Regions from separate parts of the Homo sapiens genome. Here regions 2 and 3 are each linked to region 1. Evidence: fine-mapped expression QTL. A gene starts in region 1. Each other region holds a variant in brackets. All regions are shown on one strand. Distances are from middle to middle. Region 1 holds the start of BRINP2 (BMP/retinoic acid inducible neural specific 2). Region 2 overlaps BRINP2 (BMP/retinoic acid inducible neural specific 2). Region 3 has its middle 73 kb from the start of PAPPA2.

What was found. PIP is the estimated chance that this variant, and not a neighbour inherited with it, causes the effect.
Region 2: its variant is fine-mapped to the expression of BRINP2 in esophagus muscle (GTEx, PIP 0.94).
Region 3: its variant is fine-mapped to the expression of BRINP2 in gastroesophageal junction (GTEx, PIP 0.96).

Annotation. Positions count from the first base shown.
Region 1 is chr1:177,165,948-177,174,131 of GRCh38, forward strand. It overlaps BRINP2 (BMP/retinoic acid inducible neural specific 2), which reads left to right and starts at 5,011. Exons shown (of 8, transcript NM_021165.4): 1 at 5,011-5,785. RefSeq lists enhancers at 4,649-5,238, 5,239-5,827.
Region 2 is chr1:177,216,050-177,224,233 of GRCh38, forward strand. All of the region lies in intron 1 of BRINP2 (BMP/retinoic acid inducible neural specific 2), which reads left to right. Among named protein-coding and RNA genes, the nearest start is that of BRINP2, 49 kb to the left of the region's middle. The variant G/T (reference allele first, on the strand shown) is at 4,713.
Region 3 is chr1:176,386,298-176,394,481 of GRCh38, forward strand. No RefSeq gene overlaps it. Among named protein-coding and RNA genes, the nearest start is that of PAPPA2, 73 kb to the right of the region's middle. The variant T/C (reference allele first, on the strand shown) is at 4,523.

The DNA of each region.
Region 1 (8,184 bases):
CATGATAACCAATAACTTATTTCAAAAGTGTGTCCCTCCATTGTTATTGGGTCAATGCTAACTTCAATACTAGGTGCTGTGAAGACTGTGTTATTTGTAGTTCTCACTCTAGAAATTTAATGCACTACTGTTCTAAAAGAGGACCCCTACTTAAGAAACAATTACATTTTCATTCTACCTGGTGTCAGTTTATTGGCATATGTGAAAATATGTTCTTTAAAAGACAAAAAAGCTTTTGCCATATATTTTACAAAGTTTATCTAATTGAATAGAGAAAATAAGCCATATTTAAGGTAATGTTTAAGTAGTGAAAGATCATTTACCACATATGCAAAGAAAAGAAGAACAAAGACACTTTATTAGTTGAGTTTTTATATGTAACTTATCTGGGAATTAACCCCAAGTTATCTTACCATGCAGCATTGCAAACTACTGTAAACTACTGTAAAAAAGATGTACCAGCTAACGACTTTTGAAAACTCATCCTGATCGTCATTGCTCCCCTAAGAGATACTGAGTGAGACAAAAACCCCATGATATCTCTTTCATTCTGTTATCCCTAGCATAAACAAAAATCTAGTATTAAACTTACTTATGCAAGGTTATTTGCCATTGAATAATTATAGTGGATGTCAGGAACACACCCTTGATACTAGAATGTGAGAAATGGCATGTAAGTACCTGATCATGTATTCATCCAATCTCTCACTTAACAGATAAGGAAATTGAGACCCATTAAAGAGTGATCTATCTTCTATGGAGCTAAGACCATGAACAAGATTTCTTTGCCCACTGCTCTTTCCACTATATGGTTATGGTACACTAGGGTGCACCCATGGATAATCACTGGGCTTTATGGACCACAGTAATTAATTCAGCAAATGTTTGTGTACCTACTGTATCATAAGCATTAGGCTAAGCACAGCCAGAAAAATACTACTCCTGCTTTTGAGTAGCATATAATCTACTGTCACTTTGAAATCTTTCTTTCTAATTTTCTGAAGATTCTTGAGTCATGTTAGAAAGCCCAAGTAAACCATTTAGGGTTGATTTTCCAATAAGTCAATATCTAGTCTTCTTAAAATGTATATTGAGTTGGGCATAGTTGGTAGTTGGTATCTCAAGTCTTTCTAGACCTCTCTAAACAAAACCAAACAAAAGAAACAGTAGAATTTTTTAAAAGAGAATATATTATTCCAGAGTACTTGATTCCTGTAAAAATGGAAATAATGTCACATGGCCCTTTCTTAGGGAATTAAATACCTAGAGATGTGGGTAAAGGTTGAAGTACATGGAAACCAGGCCATCTCTAATGCATGATGTTTTACATTTAGAGGAGATGGGGGAAAATGTTATGCATCTCAATCATCACCTTTGTGTAGAGGCATAATGATATAGTGAAATAATAGAACTGGATTCAAGACTTAACTTCATAATATTCTTATTTGGAGATAAGCTTGGACCATTCTTGTCTTTAGTTCCCCATCAACAAAAGGGGCCAATCATCTCCGCTCACCCCTGCTGGTCACAGAAAATGTTTCTGACTTTCATCACCAAAGAGTAATGTTACTTGCTCTTGAATTTTATAAATATAGAATCTTAGAGTATATGCTTTTTTGTGTCTTAATATTTTCACTCATCATTATGTCTGTGAGATTTATCCATGTAGTTCAATATTGTATTGCTGTGTACTAGTCCATTACATGACTACATGGCATTTATTCATTCTCAGAAAATTTCTATTCTTTAAAACACTGTAAAACAGCAAGCGCTGTTATCTCCAATCTTCACTTTTCTCCTGAGATACACCTTCCTGTATTTAAGCACCAATGGCCTCTTTCCTTGACTATTAAAATAGATTTTGATTCCTTTTCCTCCTAGCAACGCATTCTGTACACAACTACCAGGTTGATCTTCATGAAATCTAACTTTCATTATGTCATTCTAGTTTTTCTTTTTCTACATGATAAAGCTGAAAACCCATGGTTTAGAAATTTTAAAACTCTTCTAATCTCACACTGTTTTTTAGATAGTTTGCTCACTGCACTATATCTCTATCCTCCCACCACACATGTGCACACAGACACACACATCTCTCAATCAAATTAAAATCTATTTCCTATTTTCACTCCTCCCATAACATTCTGTCCACCTGAAGTGCAACACTCTTTATTCTTCAGATTGTCCCATCTCTCCAAGCTAATCTGCAGCTGCACCTATGCAGTGAGAACTTCCATCACTTCCCTTCTTTTAGCTCCATTCCCTGGGCATTTATTTACATCTCCCCCAACATCTACACATATACATACACATACACTCAGGAAAGCAAGAGCTATTTCCTAATACAAAGTCTTAAATTCAATATTCTTATTTGCAAAACAGGAATAATACATAGTTTTGGGGGTGGTTGTGAGGAGGAAATGAGATTATGTATGTAAACAATGTGACACATTTTAGGCATTTAGTTGGCACTCAGTAGCGATAGCCTTTGCCACTATCACCTTATTCAATTATTTTGGCAAGATAATAGGCTTCAGAGTCATCTTCATGAGATTTTCTCCAGTGTAGTAGTCAAAGCAAATTAAGTAATGTATAGTCCTTGGTGTTTTCCCAGAGGAAATGATTGCATACATCCACCAAAAGACAAGCACAAAAACATTTATAACAAGTTTACTTATAATAGCCAAAAAACCCCAGAAACATCCCAAATATCTATCAAGAACAGAATGAATAAATGCCATGTAGTCATGTAATAGAGTGGTGCACCGCAATAAAACATACAACTACATGGATAAATCTCAGAGACAAAATGATGAGTGAAAGGATCAAGACACAAAAGAGTGTATACTCTAAGATCCTATATTTACAAAGTTCAAGAGCAAGTAACATTAATCTTTGGTGATGGAAGTCAGAATATAATTATCTCTGGGGAGTGGAGGGTTTTGACTGAGAACGTTCACGAACATGCTTCCTGCAGTGCTGGAAATAAAGTGAGTAATGGTTACATTGATGCATATATAGGCAAGAATTAAACTATACACTTGTGGCAATTCTTAATGTATATTCTGCCTCTTTAAAATTTTTTACACGGCTTCAGACTTTATAGGAGAAGAAAGTACAAGCAAGTTTTCTTTTTCAAGTTGTCTTCTTATCTGCCATCACCTCTTTCCTCTCTCTTTTACAGATTTTGGAAATTTTAACTTTCTTTCCATTGAAATTAGCAATCCTTTGTTCAACCTCTCCCTCTATTTACCCACTCCCTTATGCTATTTTAACATTTCAGTATGTTGTCACTTGGGACAAGTTCAGTGGGTCTCTGCCTCTAGAAATCACAAAAGTAAATAACTCAGCAGTTGGGTAGCAATAGATTTAGGCTCTCAGTGGTTCTCTTGGTTATTTTATTCTAGAAAGAGAGCTCAGGACCCTGTGGGACCACCATTCTCTGACATGTTTTGTAGCTTAGGCAAACAGATACTTGCAGTATGCAGAAGGAAGTTCAACGTTGTATAAGATACAGAGAAGAAAATATAGGTGAAAGTGATAGATGTGTGAGTCTGAGGGGATGAATGAAGAAAATTTCTAATTTTTCTTTATTCATTCAGAACTTACGGCTACTTGATGCAGTTTAGCTAATCTCCATGTGTACTTCTTACACATTCATTAAATCTCTACATACTTTTTTTTTCTAGTTCTTTACAAAATAATCTCCGATGTTGCTCTCCATTTAAGGAAACTAAATTGAAAGACTCCTCTCGCTTTCTGACTATATATTTATCTTCTTCATACTTCCCCCACCACATGACTTAGCATGGATCTCCCAAGTTCCTTCCCCAGCTCCAGCCCCCAGCTCTTCCCTTGAATTGGATTTTTCTTCAACTATTACTCTTTTTCCTATGCTCCTGCCAAAATCTAGTTTAGTATGCTAGTTAGCGGGACATGTTTCAGTTTTGTACCCTCATTAGGATATCAAAAATATATACTTCACACTTCAATGTAAAGTTAATATTTTCTTCCCTTCTCCTTTCCTCCCTTTTCCCTCCACCTCCCTCCCTTTTTTCCTCCCTCCCTCTCTTTCAATTCACAGGCCCAGCAACAGCACCTGCTTCACAGAAACAAGGCTGGTCCTGTTCTGATTTCTCTAGTCTTCCTTTAAAAACTAAACGGAGATGCACAGTCCCTCTTCCTGACACACACAGAAGTGAAAGGAGACACACAGAGGGAAAACACCACAGGCAAAACAATTCCCTTTTTTGGAGGGACATTTTTGAAACTTAATCTCTCCCCAGAAACCTGAAGTTCTCCTCTTTGCCTTTGTCCTTACAGTCCTGGTGTGGGGGCAGAATGTTTCCTGATTTAGCTGTCCTGGCCTCTAAATCTGTTTCACTCTCTAGCCATCTTACTGGGTTCTTGCTCTCTTTTGCCTCTCTCTCCTCTTGGGTCTCTGGGGTGTGTGTGTGTGTGTGTGTGTGTGTGTGTGTGTGTACTATTTCTCACTTGGGGGCTCATTTCTAATTAAGTAATCCAAGAGGCTAAAAAATGCACAAAACAACCAAATGAAACCTCAAATTAGATGGAAAATGGCTCAGATGGGTCCCAATCTCTGGGAGTTCTAGTTAAGCAAGCAAACAAAATGGGCTGGGATAAATGATTATTGTAACTCAGGAAGATTAGAAGAAAATGTAATTAGCTCCCCAGCTACTTCTTGTTCCCCAGCCTTTTTAAGAGTGTCCAACGCCCCACCCGTGAATGTACCCAAGGCTTCCTTATACACACCAAAAAGTCCCCACTGCAACGCTGGGAGGGTTAACAGAGCTGGTACCCCAGCCTGCCAGCTCACCAAAGGAGAGAGCGGTGAGGCTCAGAGCCCGCCCCCTGCCAAGCCGCCCAGCCAATGGGCACCTGTGGGGAGTGTGGCGCTGTGTCCCATTGGCTGCCAACCTACATGCATAAGAAAGAAAGAGAGAGGCAGGCAGGGCAGCATTGTTATCTTAAGACACTCATCTGGTGTCTGAGTCTGCAGGTGACACTGCTTAGGTACGGAGCGCGGAGTCGGAGCGGGGACGCGCCGGGCTGCAGCTCTGGGATGCAATCCGCCTGCCTCGCAAGCTGCTCGCCGCTGCGCTGGCAGCGCTTACGCTGAGCTCGGAGGATCCCATTAGGACTTGCCCGGGGATGTGCACCTGCCGTGCGCTCCGAGGTCAGTGGCAGGTCTGCAGGCAGCCGAGGGAGCGGTGAAGCCGGAAGACCTGTCTCTGCCCATGTGCAAGGCAGTGATTTCGGGTGAGAGAGCGGGTGGGTGAGTCTCTTTAGAGTTGGAAAGAAGGCAAAATCTTGGGTTTCTCCTCGGCGGAGGGACAGGGGACTCCCCCAGTTGGGTCTTGCACTTCCCTTACCTCTCCCACCCCGCGTGCGCCCCGGCCCAGTGCCGAAGCCCCACTTCAAAGATGCTCTGGGAGACCGGGATCCTGGCTGCTCAGCGGGAAGGCAGCAGGCAAGTGGTCTAACGTTGGCGGCGGTGGCGGTGGCGGCGGCGGCGGCACCGACAGTAAAGCGGGGAGCAAGAGAATTTGAAAAGAGACATCCGCTCCCTCTCACACGCTGAGGGGGAGGCATTCGCGTTTCCCCAAATGAGAAAGAACCACAAGAAATCATGAAGTAAAAACTTTGGAAAGCTGCCACTGGAGATGTTGCACAAAAACCTGGAATCTTTTAGGAGTCTCCTCCCAGTCGTTGAAGGTTTGGGGAGCAGCTGATACAGCAAGGAGGGCTCTTGCAAGGATTCAAGGTAACAGTGCAGGGTTTCGGTGATTTTTCTCCCCTTTTCATTGTCCTTTTTGGTGTGTCCGTTGGTAAAGGGACCATTTTGCTCTCATACAACCCTCTTGCCCTGGTGCCTGGCAGTGGCAGGCAGAGGGAATGATGCCACCTCTCCTAGTTTCTGTCTTGTGGAGTTGAGCAATGGACTTTGGGGTTGAGCTAGAGATTGCTCTGGTATTGCCTCCTGGTGTTGCATGGCTGTCAGAGGGTTTGGGCTCCCTGCCTGACCTATATTGCTTTTGCCTGGTTTAAGTCCTCAAAGTTAGTGCAACTCCTATTAGCTTCAGAAAATTCAATAGGGCTGCATAATTGCAGAAGATGACGAGGACTTTTGCCTGCCCAGCTGACGCTGGGAGGTTCATTATGTTTGGGAAGGAGCCCAAAGAGCTGAGGTTACAATGCACGATATCTATATTATCGTGCTCATAGAGCCCTATGGCATGTTTCCCATGCACATGCAGTCAGGAAAATAAAATTCCAAACAGTGAACCCTGTAGGTTGCAAATAGTCTCCCCAGGGTGGTGGCAGAAGCCCCATTGATTGACTTGAGCCTGGCAGAGCACTGGAGACACTAGGGAAGAACATTGCTGTGCTGAAAGGTGGGATGTGCTGGTATCATCTAGCAGATCTCTGTCTCTGTTTTTGTGATCATCTGGGTACACTGTCGAATGCTGCCTGTGGTGTGTGTATGTATGTGTGCTTGTGCTCACAGCTGTATGCAGGAAACAGGCTGCCCACAGAAGAACCAAGCATGTCCAGCACCCTGTCCAAATCACGGATGCCTGGAGTGTTCCTGCCTAGTAGGAACACGAACTTGTGAGCTGTTGTTCCAGCCCAGAGGACTCTTCTCCTCACCAAGCAGTCCCTCTGCATGGTACATATTTATCCAGGGTATATAGACCTAAGCCAAATGTTAACCAATGTTCAAGCTAATGCACTGTAATGTGATTGAACAGACCCCTCTGTAAAGAATTGTGTGTGTGCTCTTTGCAGCCCTAGGAGCAGGGTGCTATGAGCAGAAACAAATGTTTTGTTAAAAGGATAACAATTATAAAAGGTCAAGCTTATAGTTGGGTAATCTAGGCCTTATTCAGCAGGGACATTGTTATGTCAGCATAGACCAATCAGAGGGATAAAAGGTATATTATAAGTCAAGTATTTCTGCTTCTGTCCTTCTCCAGACATGTGCATGTTGAAGTGACTCTCTCTGACCATGCTCGCTAAAATACATGCAATGCCAGTATTAACCAAGCAACTAAAGTATACCAAATCCCCCGGGGGGCAGTCTGATGACATCAGGCAACAGCAAAGTGATGCTGGAGTTTGTGTGCTTTCCCTCCTGACTCACACAGTTGTGTGTATGTTATTTGTTTAAGGCATGACCCTCTGGAGTCCCCCTTCACCCAGAATAAGTTGCTTTGCAGCACTGAGGGCATGACCGAGACATGCTGCCACAATGATCCTGTCTTATCAATATCAGAGCTGCTGCCTACTCTAGGAAAAGATGCATGCCTTGCTTCTTTGAGGAGGATATAATTTGAAAAGGCACAGAGCATGTATATTGTGAAATATTTGAGATAAAGGAAGCAAATGTCACACCATAGTCTCCCCTTCTGGAGGTCAGCTGGCGCCAAAGTGTTTGACAGCTGGGCTGCAGCCATGGAGAAGACAGGAGCATTCTTGACTCTTACTTCCCCTCTTCACCAAAAATGGAGCTGGCTTTGTCTCCCAGAATGGAGTGATGTGTGCTGCAGTGTGGGCACAAGAAAGGAGGTGAGGAGAAAAGGGCTGGGGAAGGAGGAAGGTTCCTGCTCTGTCAGCATGGGGCTGGTCTCAAAGATGGGGAGCATCTTCCCTTTTTGGCCCTCAAAATTATCTTCTACGTGCTCCTTTCTGGCCTCCTGACAGGTTGTTTACTGAACAAGGCCAAAGGGCAAAGAACAACCCTGTGTCATCACCTTCTCCTGATCCCCTTTCCCAAGACACAGGCTGGCCACTGGAGAGCATCACAGAAAAATGATACACTCCCTTGAGGCACTGCTCTGAAATCCCTCCCCAACTCACAAACAAGAGGTAATCTGGAGGGACTTGAGACATCTGCGTGGGCACTTTCTGCTGACTGGGATGCTTAGTTGAGGTTTCCTGGTTAGTGTTTTGTTTTCCCCACTGCGCAGTGTATTTTTGGTGATTCAACTCTTTCTCTTAAATAATAAGACCTTGTATACATTTTATAATGGCATCCTCTTCCAAAGGGCTGACAGCACTTTCCAGAGCTCATCTAATTAATCCTCACACGGCTTATTGTCTCATTTATCTTTGATTACCCTAAGAAGTAAAGCTAAAATGATTTTAGCCCCCTTCTTGGAA
Region 2 (8,184 bases), 50 kb after region 1:
TGGATTTTTATCTATAAATTCACTCTATGTCTTTTGATTGGAGAATTTAATTCATTTATTTTCAAGGTAATTATTAATAGGTAAAAACTTACTATTGCCATTTTGTTAATTGTTTTCTGGTTGTTTTGTGGATATTTTCTTTCTTCCTCCATTTCTGTCTTTGTAGTTTGATGGTTTTCCGTAGGGTATGTATTTTGTTTTCTTTTGTTTTGTGCATCTCCTATAGATTTTTGATTTTTGGTTGCCATGAGGCTTACATAGAACATGTTACACTTATAATAGTTTATTTGAGGCTAACAGTTTAGCTTTGATTGCATACAATAACTCTCCAGTTCTCCCCCATTCCAGTATTTTATGTTTTTGATGTCTGAATTGTATCTTTTTTAAATATGTTTTACTTGACAATTTATTTCAGTAACTGTTGTTATTAACAATTTCATCCTTTAATGCTTGTACTAGGGATAAAATTACTTTGCATACTACTATCACAGTCCTAGGCTATTCCACATTTTGCTACATAAAACTTATACTATTAGGTTTTGTACTTTCATAAATTTTATGTTAATAATTAGCATCTTTTAGTTTCAGTTAAAAGAACTCTCTTTTGCAATTCCTGCAAGCAGGCCTAGTGATGATAAACTTATTTAACTTTTGTTTGTCTGGGAAAGTTTTTATTTCTCCCTCATTTCTGAAAGACAGATTTTCTGAGTGAAGTATTCTTGGTTGGTAGTTTTTTTTTTTTTTTTTCACTTCACCACTTTGAATATATCATCCAATTCTCTCCTGGCCCGCGGTGTTTCTGCTGAGAAGTTTGCTGATAGTTTTATTGGGACTCCTTTGTATGTGATGTATTTCTTATCTCTTGCTGCTCTCAGAATTTGTTCTTTGTATTTAATTTTTGATAATTTGATTATTAAATGTCTTGGTGAATTCTTTTTTGGTTAGAGTTTTATTGCTGACCTCCACATTTTGTATACCTAGGTGTTGGCTTCTTTTCTTGATTAGAGACGTTTTCATCCATTATTTCTTTAAATATGTTTTATGGCCTTTTTCTTTCTTTCTTTCTTTCCTCCTGGAATGCCTATGATGCATAGGTTAGGTTTCTTGTTTGATGATGTCCCATTATTCCCATAGATGTTCTTCATTCTTTATTATTATTATTTACTCCTCTGATTGGGTAATTTCAAATTTTCTGTCTTCATGTTTACTGATTTCTCAGCTTGATAAAGTCAGCTGTTGAAGCTTTCTATTGCATTTTTCAGTTCAGTCACTGTAATCTTCATTTTAAAAATCTCCATTTAAAAAAAAAGTTTCTATTTCTTTGTCAAACTTCTCCTGTTTGTGTATTATCTTCGAGATTTTATTTAATGTTTAATCTGTATCTTCTTGAAGTTTACTAAACATTTTTAAGAGGATTATTCTGAATTTTTTTTTCTGTCCTTTTATCGATATCTTTGTCCTAAGAGTCTATTGTTAGAGCTTTGTCACTTTCTTTTGGAGGTGTTATGAGTCTTTATAATCCTTGTATCCTTGTATCGGTGTTTATGCATTTGTGGAGACAGACAACTTTTCTGGCTTTTACAAGTTTGTTTTTTTGGCAGGGATAGAAATTCACTAGTTAATCTACCCCTATGATTCTGGATGGGTCATTCTGGATGAGTAATGATCCTGGAAAGGCAGGCTTGCTTTTAAGTTCTCTAGATGGCTGGGCTACTGCTTTTACCTGGAATTTGTGTGGGGCAGCTGACTAGGCTTTGCTGTTTGGCAAGATCACTGGCTGAGCTCTACTACTAGGCTGAGCTGCCATATGGATGCTGCAATCACATCTTGTCTGGCAGGGCCACAGGGTGTAATTCCCTGGCCAGGTACTGCTATTTGAGTTCAGGAGTTGACCAAGGTTGCAGAAGAGGCCCCAAAGTTAAGTAGGTTGGGATGAATGGACTAACTGCTATGGTCAGTAGAAATGCATGACTGAGATTTGCCTTCCTCCATGGGTGAGGTGTGGGGATGGGCTTTGAGGCCAAGAGAAGAACTGATTAAACTCCCAGGTGTGGCAGAACTAGTGCCTGCTTTTTGTCAGTATTTGCTACAGTGATCAGCAGTCTCCTTGGGCAGAGTCTAGGGGTAAGCTTTAAGGCTACAGGGAGTGTAGATTAAGCTCCTGACTGTAGCAGATCTAGTGCCTGCTTGTTGTGGAAATTTGCTGCAGGGGGTCTTCTCTTACCTAGGCAGGACCCTAGGGTAGGGTCTGAGGCTGGCCATCTAGAGACTCAAGCCATGTAACCCTTCCCACCTCTTCTGGGAGTGACCAGCTCAGCTCTGTGGGTGAGCTACACACCCACAGATACCTCTGATTGAGCACGACTAGTGGCAGGTGCACTGAGCTTTTACCAAAATCTGTGATGTCTAAATTTGCATAATTTTTTAATATGTTTCACTTGACAATTTATTTTACTGTTCTCTGTGGGCTCCACCTCCTGACTTTGTTTTTACCTGACCCCAGATAGTCTAGTCATGTGGTTTTCTCCTCCATTCCCCATTTCCAATGAGGTGAGAATGGGGTGAGTTGCCTGGGAAGCACCTCAAAATGCTGGGAAAGTTGGATATTTGCTTTCCCGCTGTAGAAACCATGGGCCCTAGGGAATTTCCTCTGTGTGGCACTGTGCTGACTTAGGGGAGAGAGGAAGGGCAACGTGGTCAAAGCAAAACCATTTCTCTTACCCCTTCCATGTGGAGTTTGATTCAGTTCCATGGAATACACAGGTGACTCAGGCTTATTCCCACATTTTCACCAAGGTGTTTTTGACTGGATAGTTGATGTTTCTCTGGGAGGAGTGAAGCCTGGGACCCCTTCTTCCACCATCTTGCTGATGTCACTTCAACTTGCCATTATCTATTCTATTCTTGCCACTATCTAATCTATTATTAAATAGATTGCTAATATATAAGCTTTGGTTGTCTGTAAAAATCAATCTAAAGGAAGGAGAGTTATTTGGCTTAATAACTGAAGAGAGAGCTTGCAGTGATAGAACAGCTTGCTCCCCATCAGTAGTCCCTTGCAAACTGCCAGTGAGCCTTGGACCATACTTTTAGAAATGATGCTTTGTGGTCAGCAATTCCAAAAGGTTAATTATGATATTCCAGTCTACTTGTGGAACTTCCAAGCTAGCTCCTGCCACCACACATCATTTCCTCAATGCAGCAGCTTTATTGATTGCACCCCGTTGTCTCCTTACTTCTGCTATCCCCCTAGCTTTCCACTAATACCAGTCAAAAGCCTATGGGGGCCTAAAGAGAGAGCCCTTTATCAAACAAACAAAGCACTTAGTGGTGGGTGTCTTGGACTATGCTACAAAAAGGTACAATGATTCTTTCTCTGTGTACTTATTGACATTCATTGAGCGGCATATAGTTTATTTTAGCTAGAGTTTGTGATGTAGCATCTATATTTAATTCCACAAGCTGTCAGGCAACTCATATATTTACAAACACAATCCTGGAAACAATGTGATTGCTGGTCACAGCTGCATCTGTAACATCTCAGGAGCTCTGTGCTGTTTAGCACAGCTCAGGGCATTATCATTTTACATTCTGGTTTGTGCCAAGGTCCAAATAGGGCAGAGCTTGGGCTAAAAGTTCAGATTCAATGACAGGCCTGGCAGAAAGCCAAGAGCAAGAGTAACATTGAGGGCTGCAGGTCATAATGGAGAGTTGCTTATCAGCCCCACCTCAATTTTTCAGCCTACATAGTTATGAGCAATTTCTCTGTGATTGGCTTGGGTTTATTTTGGCTTCCCGGGCCTTAAACCACCCTATGTATATACAGAGACTCAGCTGGGAAGTGAGCTGGGGCTTAAGCAACAGAAGCCAGTCTGCTGGGAGGAGGCAGGGACAGAGAAGGGTCTCTCTCTGGAGTACGAAAGCAGCTGTCAACAAGGGATTGAAGTAGATGACTAAGCCAGCTTCAGTAGCTAGATCCAGGGAGATGGGCAGGCCATGCCCAGGGGCAGGGCCAAATGGTTTGATTCAGGCAATCTTGGTAACAGGAGGTCCAATGGCTAGAATATATAAAGAGGAACTCTAAGAGAGGGTGCAGTCCAGAAGCAGGTAAAAGGGCAGGAAATTCCTGGGGGCCTATCTATCTACAGCAGGAAATGGGGGAGTGGAGAGCAGGAGGCACAGAAGCCAAAAAGGGTGTGGTGTAATTTGGATATTTGTTCCCACCCAAATCTCATGTTGAAATCCCCATTGTAGGTAGGGTGTGGTGGGAGGTATTTGGATCATAGGGGCAGATCCCTCATGAATGGCTTGGGTCATTCCTTTGGTGATAAGTGAGCTCTCACTCTGAGTTCACGCCTATCTGTGGTTTCAAAGTGTGCAGTACCTCCCCCACCTCTCTCTCTCTCTCTTGCTCCTGCTTTTGCCATGTGATGTGCCTGTACCCCCTTCACCTTCTGCCATGATTATAAGTTTTCTGAGGCCTCTCTAGAAGTAGAGCAGATGGGAGCACCACACTTCCTCTAAAGCCTCTGGAACCATGAGCCAATCAAACCCTTTTCTTTAATCAATTACCCAGTCTTGGGTGTTTCTTTGTAGCAATGCAATAACGGCCTAATGCAGGGTACAAGCCTCTTACACCTTAGATGGACATGCGGAGACTGGGCAGAAAGGAAGGGGATGAGGAATCTGGGCACAGGCTCAGTTGGGTTTGG[G/T]GATATGAGGGAAGAGCACTGTAACTCAAGGGCATGCAAGAAACCAGGAGTTGTGGATTGGCCCATGGTGGAGGAGTACGCCTAACCTGTGGTTTTTGAGACAGCACAGGTGAAATACCACTGGGTTCTTATGAGGCCATGCTGACAGGCCATCTAAACAGGAGCCACACAGCTTCCAAAAAAGCAGCATGCTTATCTAAGCTGGAAAAGTGATTGTAGGTGAATCCTGCTTGTGTACTTTAAGATTTTAGACTTTTCTTCAATCTTGCAATTTTTAAAATGAAAATGACCCAGAGGAATCTAGGATAACCTCATGTGAATACAGCTATCTTATTCAAGTCTGTAGCTGTTAGATTTATAGGTCATGTAAATAGTATTAAGGACTCCCCTTGGGAGAACATTATTGGCTTCTCTGTTCCTGAGTTTTCTTCTCTGTACAATGGGCATAATAACAGCATCAACCTTACAGGGGTTTGTGCATAGTAAATAACGCATGGAAAGTGTTTAGATTGATGTTTGGTACACAGTAACTAATATGTAAACATAATTAGAGGTGATTATAATGGCAACTCTGGGACTCATGGGTTTTGAATTTTGAAAATTTTACCATTGACACACATAAAACGGAGACAGACAAGCTCTAGGCTTAGTGTTAAGAGACCCAAGTTCAAGTCCTCACTTTTCCCCAAACCAGTGGTGGGTCTTTAAATAACGTATTGCACTTCTGTGACTGAAAGTTTTCTCACTTATGATACAATGTGACATGAATTTTATCACTGGATCCCATCAGAATGTTGCATCAAAATCTCCTGGGAGGTTTTTAAAAAATATTCAAAATTATAAAAATATACCCCAGCCCCATATCTCAGTTATTTCCCTCTTTCCTCCCTTCCCTATTTCCATTCCACTCCCTACCTTCCCCACATACACACACTACCACATGTGCTCCAGGCTGCTGAGAACCACTGGGTCAGGTAATCTCCAGGATCCCATCCCTTCTCCCCAGTTCCAGGACACGATCAGGTGGAAATTAACCAGGGAACAGAGGCTGTAGGAAGCCAAAGCAACCGCATAATCAATGCACAGAGCTTTGAAAGGCTTCTTGGAGAAAATGAGGCTAAAAGATGTGAGAGACCACAGTAGACTCACAGAGAGGAAAGGCAGGAGTGAGTACAATGGCAGGGCTCATAGCCAGACAACTGGGGAATCAAGTGACCACAGGATGAAGGTGAAAGGGCCCTGGGTTGAACCCATCACTACAGTCATCAGCTGCAGAGGACTAGGGATGGGGGACTGGTGAGGTTATTCAGAGTGACCTGGAGAAACCTCTAAAAGGCTAAAATGAGGAAACGCCTTTTAACAGAAATCTTACCTTTTTAAGCTTCAGTTTTCTCACCTGTAAACAACAACAAAACAAACAAACAAAAACTAAGATTGGATGAGTCTATGAACTGTTTTTGGACTCTTTTTAGTGCTAATAACCCCTGTTGGAGCAATGGAAAAAATAATGGTGAACACACAGCACTCACCATGGGCCAGACACCTTTTTTTCTTTTTCTTTTCTTTTCGAGATGGCGTCTCACTCTATTGCCCAGGCTGGAGTGCAATGGCACGATCTGGGCTCACTGCAACCTCCACCTCTCAGGTTCAAGTGATCCTCCTGCCTCAGCCTCCCGAGTGGCTAGGATTACAGGCACCTGCCATCATGCCCAGCTAATTTTTATATTTTTAGAAGAGACAGGGTTTCACCAGGTTGGCCAGGCTGGTCTCAAACTCCTGGCCTCAGGTGATCCACCCACCTCAACCTCCCAAGGTGCTGGGATTACAGGCGTGAGCCACTGTGGCCGGTCAGGCCAGACACCTTTTAAAGGCTTTACAAATATTAACTCTTTTAATCCTCACAATCCTATGGAGTAGCACTATTATTGTTATCTTAAAAAAAAAAAAAGAAAAAGAAAAAAACAAACAAAAAAACAGATGAGGAACCTGAGGCAAAAGTGTTGGAACCAACCAAGGAAGGCAGGCAGCCAGGTTCTGCAGTCTGTTCTCAAAACCACTCCACTTTGGAACAGCCGATCAGGGGAGCTCAGTGACTGGAAGTGGAAGGCAGATTGGTTCTCAGGGCCGCAAGGAGTGGCTGGGGTTTCTTAATGATGGAGGAGGATGGAAATGGTTTTGAGGAAGGTTGATCTGCAAGGAGATGAAGTTGTAAAGGCTTTGGGATGAGCGACTTTTTATTTAGAAGTACTATTTGATCAGCAGTGCCATCTTTCTATTTGCTAGTGATCCCCCTGACTGGAAGGGAGGCTCCGGAGTAGAAGGGTCTCCCTGGTCTGCACATTCGGCCCCTGGCTTTATCGCTCAGGGCTCTGGGCAAGCCTGTCAGTTAGTTTGTCTCACCAAGGAAAGCACCAAGGACACCCGGCAGGCAAGTATGAAGCCTCAGCAACTGACAGATGAATCTGCCCTTGTTAAGTGAAGGGCTGGTTATCACACAGAGAGACCTATAAATTTGGGGCCTCAGAGGAGGGATCCTACTAGGTCTAATGTCACTAAAGCTGTACATGTGTGTGAGTGCTGTGTGTTTTTGTGTCTGTGTACCTTTTAAGCTCATTACAGGATCCTAAGTCCTATGTTTTGTTCCTGCCCTATGAAAGCAAAGGCTGGGTCCGTCTTGTTCATGAGATTTACTCCCATCCCTTGGGACAGTCCTTGTGCATAGACATTACTTAATAACTGATTGACTGTTTGATGAACAGAGGCAAGTGAGGTTAAGGAGAGCTGAGTTATAGGTCTCAGAGTCAGAATATGCGAGTTTCACTTCTGTTTTATTGTGGAGTGATCTCCAGAGGGTCTCTTTGGCTCTCTTGGCCTCCTCTGTTAAAGTTCTTAAATTAATGTAAGAATATTTAGTAAACAGTAATTATGATTAGCTCTTACCATTGCATAATTATTAATATTATTAACCTGATTCTATACAGTGAGGATATCTATACCCTCACTGATTTTAAGTCATTCCTGACCAGCAGTGGGGAAATGCATCACCTATTGCTTGCCAGTTCCATGCCAGTCCTGAGGGTGACACTGAAGGTCGAATCCTGGAGCCTGGGGAGGGCAGTGACAAAATGTGTCACCCCTGCTCAGGTTCAAATGGAAGAATTATGGGACCTGATGAGGCTCTACAAAATGAAACCAGGAGCACATCGTCAAGGCAAAAGCACCATGGTTAGTCTCTGTTGAAGTTGACAGCTTATTGCAACAAGAGGGAAGAATAAAAGCCACAGATCTGAGCTGATAGCACCCCCACATCCACCCTTGCTCTTAAGAATGTCCTGTCATCTCTCCTATCTACCCTCCCTTTCTTGTAAAAACAGGAGGTTTTGCATCAAGATATTGCGGATGACAAGAACAAATAACAATTTCTGTGATTTTTTTTTTAACAACTGACACCCTCAGATTTATTCAAGAAAAC
Region 3 (8,184 bases), 780 kb before region 1:
TTGTTACATAAATAGTCTTTTACCATGTAGTATTTAAACAAATCTCTTTTTATAGTGTATATAAACTTGGTATTTAGAAAAATTCACATTTCATTATAATTGTCTGTGAATACATGCATTTTAATTTTTCCTCTTAAATTTGAATATGTTTTATTTCTTTATCTTGTCTAATTGTAGTGGCCAGCACTTCCAGTACAGTGTTAAATAGAAGTGGCGAGAATGGAGGCGGGAGCGCAGTGGCTCACAATGGTAACCCTAGCACTTTAGGAGAGTGAAGCAGGTGGGTGGATTGCTTGAGCTCAAGAGTTTGAGACCAGCCTGGGCAACACTGCAAAAATCAATATCTCTATTAAAAAAATAAAAATTAGTGAGGCATGGTGGTGCATGCCTGTAGTCTCAGCTACTGGAGGCTGGGGTTGAGGTGGGGGTAGGGGGTGCTGAGAAGGCAGGAAAATCACTTGAGCCCAGGAGGCTGAGGGTGCAGACCTTGCCAGAACTTCCAATACTATGTTGAATAGGAGTGGTGAGAGAGGCCATCCTTGTCTTGTGCAGGTTTTCAAAGGGAATGCTTCCAGCTTTGCCCATTCAATATAATATTGGCTGTGGGTTTGTCATAAATAGCTCTTATTATTTTGAGATATGTTCCATCAATACCTAGTTTATTGAGAGTTTTTAACACGAAGGGATGTTGAATTTTATCAAAGGCCTTTTCTACATCTATTGAGATAATCATGTGACTTTTGTCTTTGGTTCTGTTTATGTGATGGATTACATTTATTGATTTGCATATGTTGAACCAGCCTTGCATCTCAGGGATGATGCCAACTTGATCATGGTGGATAAGCTTTTTGATGTGCTGCTGGATTCGGTTTGCCAATATTTTATTGAGGATGTTCACATCAATGTTCTTCAGGGATATTGGCCTGAAAGTTTCTTTTTTGTTGTTGTGCCTCTGCCAGCTTTTGGTATCAAGATGATGCTGGCTTCATAAAATGAGTTAGGGAGGAGCCCCTCCTTTTCAATTGTTTAGAATAGATTCAGAAGGAATGGTACCAGCTCCTCTTTGTACCTCTGGCTGTGAATCCGTCTGGTCCTCGCCTTTTCTTGGTTGGTAGGCTATTAATTACTGCCTCAATTTCAGAATTCGTTATTGGTCTATTCAGGGACTCAACTTCCTGGTTTAGTCTTGGGAGAGTGTATGCGTCCTGGAATTTATCCATTTCTTCTAGATTTTCTAGTTTATTTGTGTAGGGGTGTTTATAGTATTCTGTGATGTAGTTTGTATTTCTGCAGTGTCAGTGGTGAGATCTCCTTTATCATTTTTTATTGTGTCTATTTGATTCTTTTTTTTAATTTCTTTTTTTTAACTTGTATTTTAAGTTCAGGGGTACAAGTGCAGGTTTGTTCCATAGGTAAACTTGTGTCATGGGGGTTGTTATATTTCTTAATCTGGGTACTGAATACACAGGTTTGAAAATTAGTAGATGCTATCCATTTAGGTATTGCAGACTCTTCTGAATAAATACTACATTGTAAACAATATCTTCTTTTTTTTGAGTTCATCATTTAAAATTTTTTTTTTAAATTTTATTATTATTATACTTTAAGTTTTAGGGTACATGTGCACAACGTGCGGGTTTGTTACATATGTATACATGTGCCATGTTGGTGTGCTGCACCCATTAACTCGTCATTTAGCATTAGGTATATCTCCTAATGCTACCCCTTCCCCCTCCCCTACCCCACAACAGTCCCCAGTGTGTGATGTTCCCCTTCCTGTGTCCATGTGTTCTCATTGTTCAATTCCCACCTATGAGTGAGAACATGCGGTGTTTGGTTTTTTGTCCTTGCGTTAGTTTGCTGAGAATGATGGTTTCCAGTTTCATCCATGTCCCTACAAAGGACATGAACTCATCATTTTTTATGGCTGCATAGTATTCCATGGTGTATATGTGCCACATTTTCTTAATCCAGTCTATCGTTGTTGGACATTTAGGTTGGTTCCAAGTCTTTGCTACTTGAATAGTGCCACTATAAACATACGTGTGCATGTGTCTTTATAGCAGCATGATTTATAATCCTTTGGGTATATACCCAGTAATGGGATGGCTGGGTCAAATGGTATTTCTAGTTCTAGATCCCTGAGGAATCACCACACTGACTTCCACAATGGTTGAACTAGTTTACAGTCCCAACAACAGTGTAAAAGTGTTCCAATTTCTCCACATCCTCTCCAGCACCTGTTGTTTCCTGACTTTTTAATGATCGCCATTCTAACTGGTGTGTATTTGATTCTTCTTTCTTTTCTTCCTTATTAGTCTAACTAGCAGTATATCTATTTTGTTAATTTTTTCAAAACACCAGCTCCTGGATTCATTGATTTTTTTTTTTGGAGGGCTTTTTTTGTATGTGTGTTCCCATCTCCTTCAATTCTGCTCTGATCTTAGTTATTTCTTGTCTTCTGCTAGCTTTTGTGCTAGTTTGCTCTTGCCTCTTTAGGTCATTTAATTGTGATGTTGGCGTCTTGATTTGAGATCTTTCTAGCTTTCTGATGTGGACATTTAGTGCTATAAATTTCCTTCTTAACACCGCTTTAGCTGTGTCCCAGAGCTTCTGGTACGTTGTCTCTTTGTTCTCATTGGTTTCAAAGAACGTCTTGATTTCTGCTCTAATTTCATTGTTTACCCAGGGGTCATTCAGGAGTAGGTTGTTCAATTTCCATGGAATTGTGTGGTCTTGAGTGAGTTTCTTAATCCTGAGTTCTAATTTGATTGCACCATGATCTGAGAAACTGTTTGTTGTGATTTCATTTCTTTTGCATTTTCTGAGAAGTGTTTTAGTTCCATTTATGTGGTTGATTTTAGAATAAGTGCCATGTGGCACAGAGAAGAGTGTATATTCTGTTGATTTGGGGTGGAGAGTTCTGTAGATGTCTATTAGGTCTGCTTGGTGCAGAGCAGAGTTCAAGTCCTAAATATCCTCATTAATTGTCTGTCTCATTGATCTGTCTAATATTGACATCAGGGTGTTAAAGTCTCCAACTATTATTGTCTGGGAGTCTAAGTCTCTTTGTAGGTATCTAATAGCTTGTTTTATGAATTTGAGTGCTCCTGTATTGGGTGCATATATATTTATGATAGCTCTTCTTGTTGAATTGTTCCCTTTACCATTATATAACAACCTTGTTTGTCTTTTTTGATCTTTGTTGGTTTAAAGTCTGTTTTATCACAGACTAGGATTGAAACCCCTGCTTCTTTTTGCTTTCCATTGCTTGGTAAATTTTCCTCCATCCCTTTATTTTGAGCCTATGTGTGTCTTTGCACATGAGATGGGTCTCCTGAATACAGCACACCAATGGGTCTTGACTCTTTATCCAGTTTGCCAGTCTGTGTCTTTTAATTGGGGCACTTAGCCCATTTACATTTAAGGTTAATATTATTATGTGCGAATTTGATCCTGTCCTCATGATGATATCTGGTTATTTTGCACACTAGTTGGTGCAGTTTCTTCATAGTGTCATTGGTCTTTGCATTTTGATGTGTTTTTGCAGTGGCTGGTACCAACTTTTCCTTTCCATATTTAGTGCTTCCATCAAGAGCTCTTGCAAGGCAGGGCTGGTGGTGATGAAATCATCTGCTTGTCTGTAAAGGATTTTATTTCTCCTTTGCTTATGAGGCTGAGTTTGGCTGGATTTGAAATTCTGGGTTTAACATTCTTTTCTTTAAGAATGTTGAATATTGGCCCCCAATCTCATCTGGCTTGTAGGGTTTCTGTTGAGAGGTCCACTTTTAGTCTTATGGGCTTCCCTTTGTAGGTGACCTGGCCTTTCTCTCTGGCTGCCCTTAACATTTTTCCTTTATTTAGACTTTGGAGGATCTGATAATTACGTGTCTTGGGGTTGGTCTTTCTCATGTAGTATCTTAATGATGTTCTCTGTATTTACCAAATTTACATGTTGGCCTGTCTTGCTAGGTTGGGGAAGTGCACCTGGATAATATCCTGAAGTGTGTTTTCCAGCTTGTTTCCATTCTCCCCTTCTCCTTCAGGTACTCCAGTCAATCGTAGGTTTGCTACTTTTACATAGTCCCATATGGAGCCTTAGTTCATTTATTCATTCCTTTTCATTCTTTTTTCTCTAATCTTGTCTGCATGCCTTATTTCAGCAAGGTGGTCTTCAAGCTCTGATTTTTTTTTTTTTTTTTTTTTTTTTTTTTTTTTTTTTTTTTTTGAGACGGAGTCTCGCTCTGTTGGCTAGGCTGGAGCACAGTGGCATGATCTTGACTCACTGCAACCTTTGCCTCTTGGGTGCAAGTGACTCTACTGCCTCAGCCTCCCAAGTACCTGGCAGTACAGGCATGTGCCACCATGCCCAGCTAATTTTTGTATTTGTAGTAGAGACAGGGTTTTGCCATGTTGCCCAGGTTGGTCTCAAACTCCTGAGCTCAGGCAATCCACCTGCCTCAACCTCCCAAAATGCTAGGATTACAGGTGTGAGCCACTGCACCCAGCCCAAACACTGATA[T/C]CTTTTCTACCACTTGGTCAATTCAGCTTTTGATATTTATGTATGCCTCACAAAGTTCTTGTGTTGTGTTTTTCAGCTCCATCAGGTCATTTATGTTTCTCTCTACACTGGTTATTCTAGTTAGCAGCTCCTCTAACCTTTTACAAAGGTTCTTAGCTTCTTTGCATTGGATTAGAACATGCTCCTTTAGCTCAGTGGAGTTTCTTATTACCTATCTTCTGAAGCCTACTTCTGTCAGTTCTTCCATCTTATCCTCCGTCCATCAGCACCCTTGCTGGAGAGGCATTGCAATCATTGGAGGAAAAGAGGCACTCTGGCTTTTTGGGTTTTCAGCATTTTTTCATTTGATTCATTCTCATATTCATGAGTTTGTCTAGTTTCAATCTTTGAGGCTGCTGACCCCTGGATGGGGTTTTCATGGGGACTTTTTTGTTTTTGTTGATGTTGTTGTTGTTGCTTTCTGTTTGTTTGTTTTTCTTTCAATGGTCAGGTCCCTCTTCTGTAGGGCTGCTGCAGTTTGCTGGGGGTTCACTTCAGGCCCTATTCATTTGGTTCACTCCCACACTTGGGGATGTCACTCAAAGAGCCTGGAGAACAGCAAAAATGGGTGCCTGCTCTTTCTTCTGGGATCTCTGACTTTGAGGGGCAGTAGGGTTGCTGACACCAGTAATTTCTGACCAGGACTGCTGAGACCAACCTGACACCAGTAGGATTGCTCCTGTATAGGGTGTCTGACAACCTATATAGGGGACAGGATCTGTTTAACAAAGCACTTTGACTGTCCTTAGTGGAGGGGGTGGGCTTCACTGGAGGGAAACCCACTCATCTAGGCTGCCTGGATTTCTTAGAACTGCTAGGAGGAAAAGGCTAAGCTTGCTGGTCTGAAGAGAATGCAGCCACCCCTCCCGCTAAGGGCTCAGGCCCAGGGAGGTCAGGGTTTTGTCCTTGAGCCTCTGGCTGGAGTTTTTGCAGTTCCCGCAGGGAGGCCCCACCCAGTGAGGAAGGATGGGTCAGGGTCAGGCCTGAAAAGGTGCTCTGGCCACAGTCTGCCACAGCTGGTATGTTGGGCTGTGGGGAACACCTCTTTGGACTAAGCCATACAGCCTCCCTGGCTCCAGCAGGGGAAAAGCACAGCTTGGAGCTACAGAGATAGCTGCCACCTTTCCCCCACTCACAGAACTTATCATGTTAGGCAGTTATGAGTCCCAGTGCTGGATGCAGCCCCTTTTCCAAGGAGTTCAAATGGCTTAGACAGCAGGCAGCCACAGCTGTGGTGCTGGTCACCCCTCCCCTTGGGAACTTGGCAGTCTAAAGCAGATTCTAGTTGAGAGGCTGTTGAGAATGTTTGAGGCTCTGGGGTTCGGACCTTAGGCCCTGGTGGTGTGGGTTCACAAGTGGGATCTTCCATACCACACTGCCCTTCCTTCCTCTCTGTGGATCATGCCAGCCACCTAGTCAATTCTGATGAGAGAACCTGGATAGCTTGGTTGCCAGTGCAGAATTCACTCGCTAATTATGATTCTTTTCAATAGGAGCCTCTGATCACTGCTACTTCTGGTAGGCCATCTTGGCCCCACCCCCCTTATTACCTTAAAGGTTTTAAAGTATGGATTCAATTAAAAAAAAGTTGTGTGTCTTTATAATAATGTATTTTTTCTTGAGTGAGTTTGAATTTGTGTCTTTCAAGAAGTTAATTTCATTTAATATTTCAAATTTATTGGTGTATAGTTGCTCATAATTTTTATCTTTTTAATTTCTATAGATTCTGTAGTGATATCACCTCTCATATCTCTGATATTAACAATTTTTCCTTCCTTTTTTTTCTTGTGAGTCTGGCTAGGAGTTACCAATTTTATTTTTTTTTCTGTCTTTTATATATATATATATATATTTTATTATACTTTAAGTTCTAGGGTACATGTGCACAACGTGCAGGTTTGTTACATATGTATACATGTGCCATGTTGGTGTGCTACACCCATTAACTTGTCATTTACATTAGGTATATCTCCTATTGCTATCCCTCCCCCCTCCCCCCACCCCACAACAGGCCCCTAAGAAACTACTTTCCATTTAATTTATTTTCTCCATTGCCTTTCTCCTATATATGTCATTGGTTTTCATTCTAATCTTTATTATTCATTTTCTTTTGCATATGATGTCTTTAGTTTGCTCTCCTTCTTTCAGTTTGACAAATTAAGGTGGAAACTGAGGTCATTTATTTGAAATGTTTATTTTCTAACAAGATCATTTATTATTACATATTTTCCTCTAACCTCCACTTAGCTGCATCTCACAAATTTTGAGATTTTTTTTTTTTATTGTCATGTAGTTTAAAATACTTTCTCTAGCTTCCCTTTTGATTTCTTCTTTGGCACAGTTTCTTTAGAGCAGAAATCCCCAACCTTTTTGATACCAAGGACTGGTTTCATGGAAGACAATTTTTCATGAACTGGGGAATGGTAAGTTTTAGGATGATTCAAGCACATTTACTGTGCACTTTATTTATATTATTATTACATTGTAATATGTAATGAAATAATTATGTAACTCACCATAATGTAGAATCAGTGGGAGCCCTGACCTTGTTTTCCTGCAACTAGACAATCCCATCTGGGGGTAATGAGAGACAGCAATAGATCGTTAGGAATTAGATTCTTGTAAGGTGTGTGCAACTAAGATCCTTCATATTGCACAGTTCACAATAGGGTTCGTGCTCTTATGATAATCTAATGCCACCACAGATCTGACAGGAGGTAGAACTCAGGTGGTAATGCTAGCAATGGGGAGCTGCTGTAAATACAGATGAAGCTTTTCTTGCTTACCTGCTGTTCAACTCTTGCTGTGTGTCCTGGTTCCTAACAGGCCGTGGTACCAGGTTGGGAACTCCTGCTTTAGAGAGGTTTTCTTACATAGTTTATGTGTTTTATTTTTAATTTGGTTCCATTGTGGCTTGAGAACATGCTTTGTATGATTTAAATCCTTTAAAATTTATTGAGCCTACTCTAATAGCTCATAATATGATTTCTATAAATACATGTTCATGTAAACAACAGAATGTATATCTTATTGTTGACTAGACATTCTAAATGTCAATTAGGTCATCTTGGTTTAAATGCAATTTAAGTGTCCTATATACTTTATTGTTTTCCTGTGATATCAACTATTAGGAGGTGGTGTTGAAATCTTCAGCTGTAATTACGGATTTGACTCTTTTTTTCTTGCAGTTCTATTGGTTTCACTACATTAATTTTGAAGTGCTGTTATTAGGCATATAATCTTTTAGTATTGTTTTCTCCCCTGATGAATTGATCTCTTTATCATTATGAAATGAAATACTTCATCCCTGGTAATATTCTTTGCTCTGAAATCAACTTTGTCTGATATTGATGTAATTATCCCAGCTTACTTTTGATTAATATTAGCACATTATGTTCTTTTTTTCTCTCAGCCTTTAACTTTTAACCTATTGGTGTCTTTATATGTGAAATGAATTTCTCATAGGTAGCAAATATTTGGGTTATGTTTTTAAAATCCATTTTGATAATATTTCTCTTTACATTGGGATATTTATACAATTTACAATTATTGTGATAATTGAGGTGGTTGGGTTTAAACTACTATCTTGCTATGTATTTTCTATTTGTCTAATCTGGTTTTTA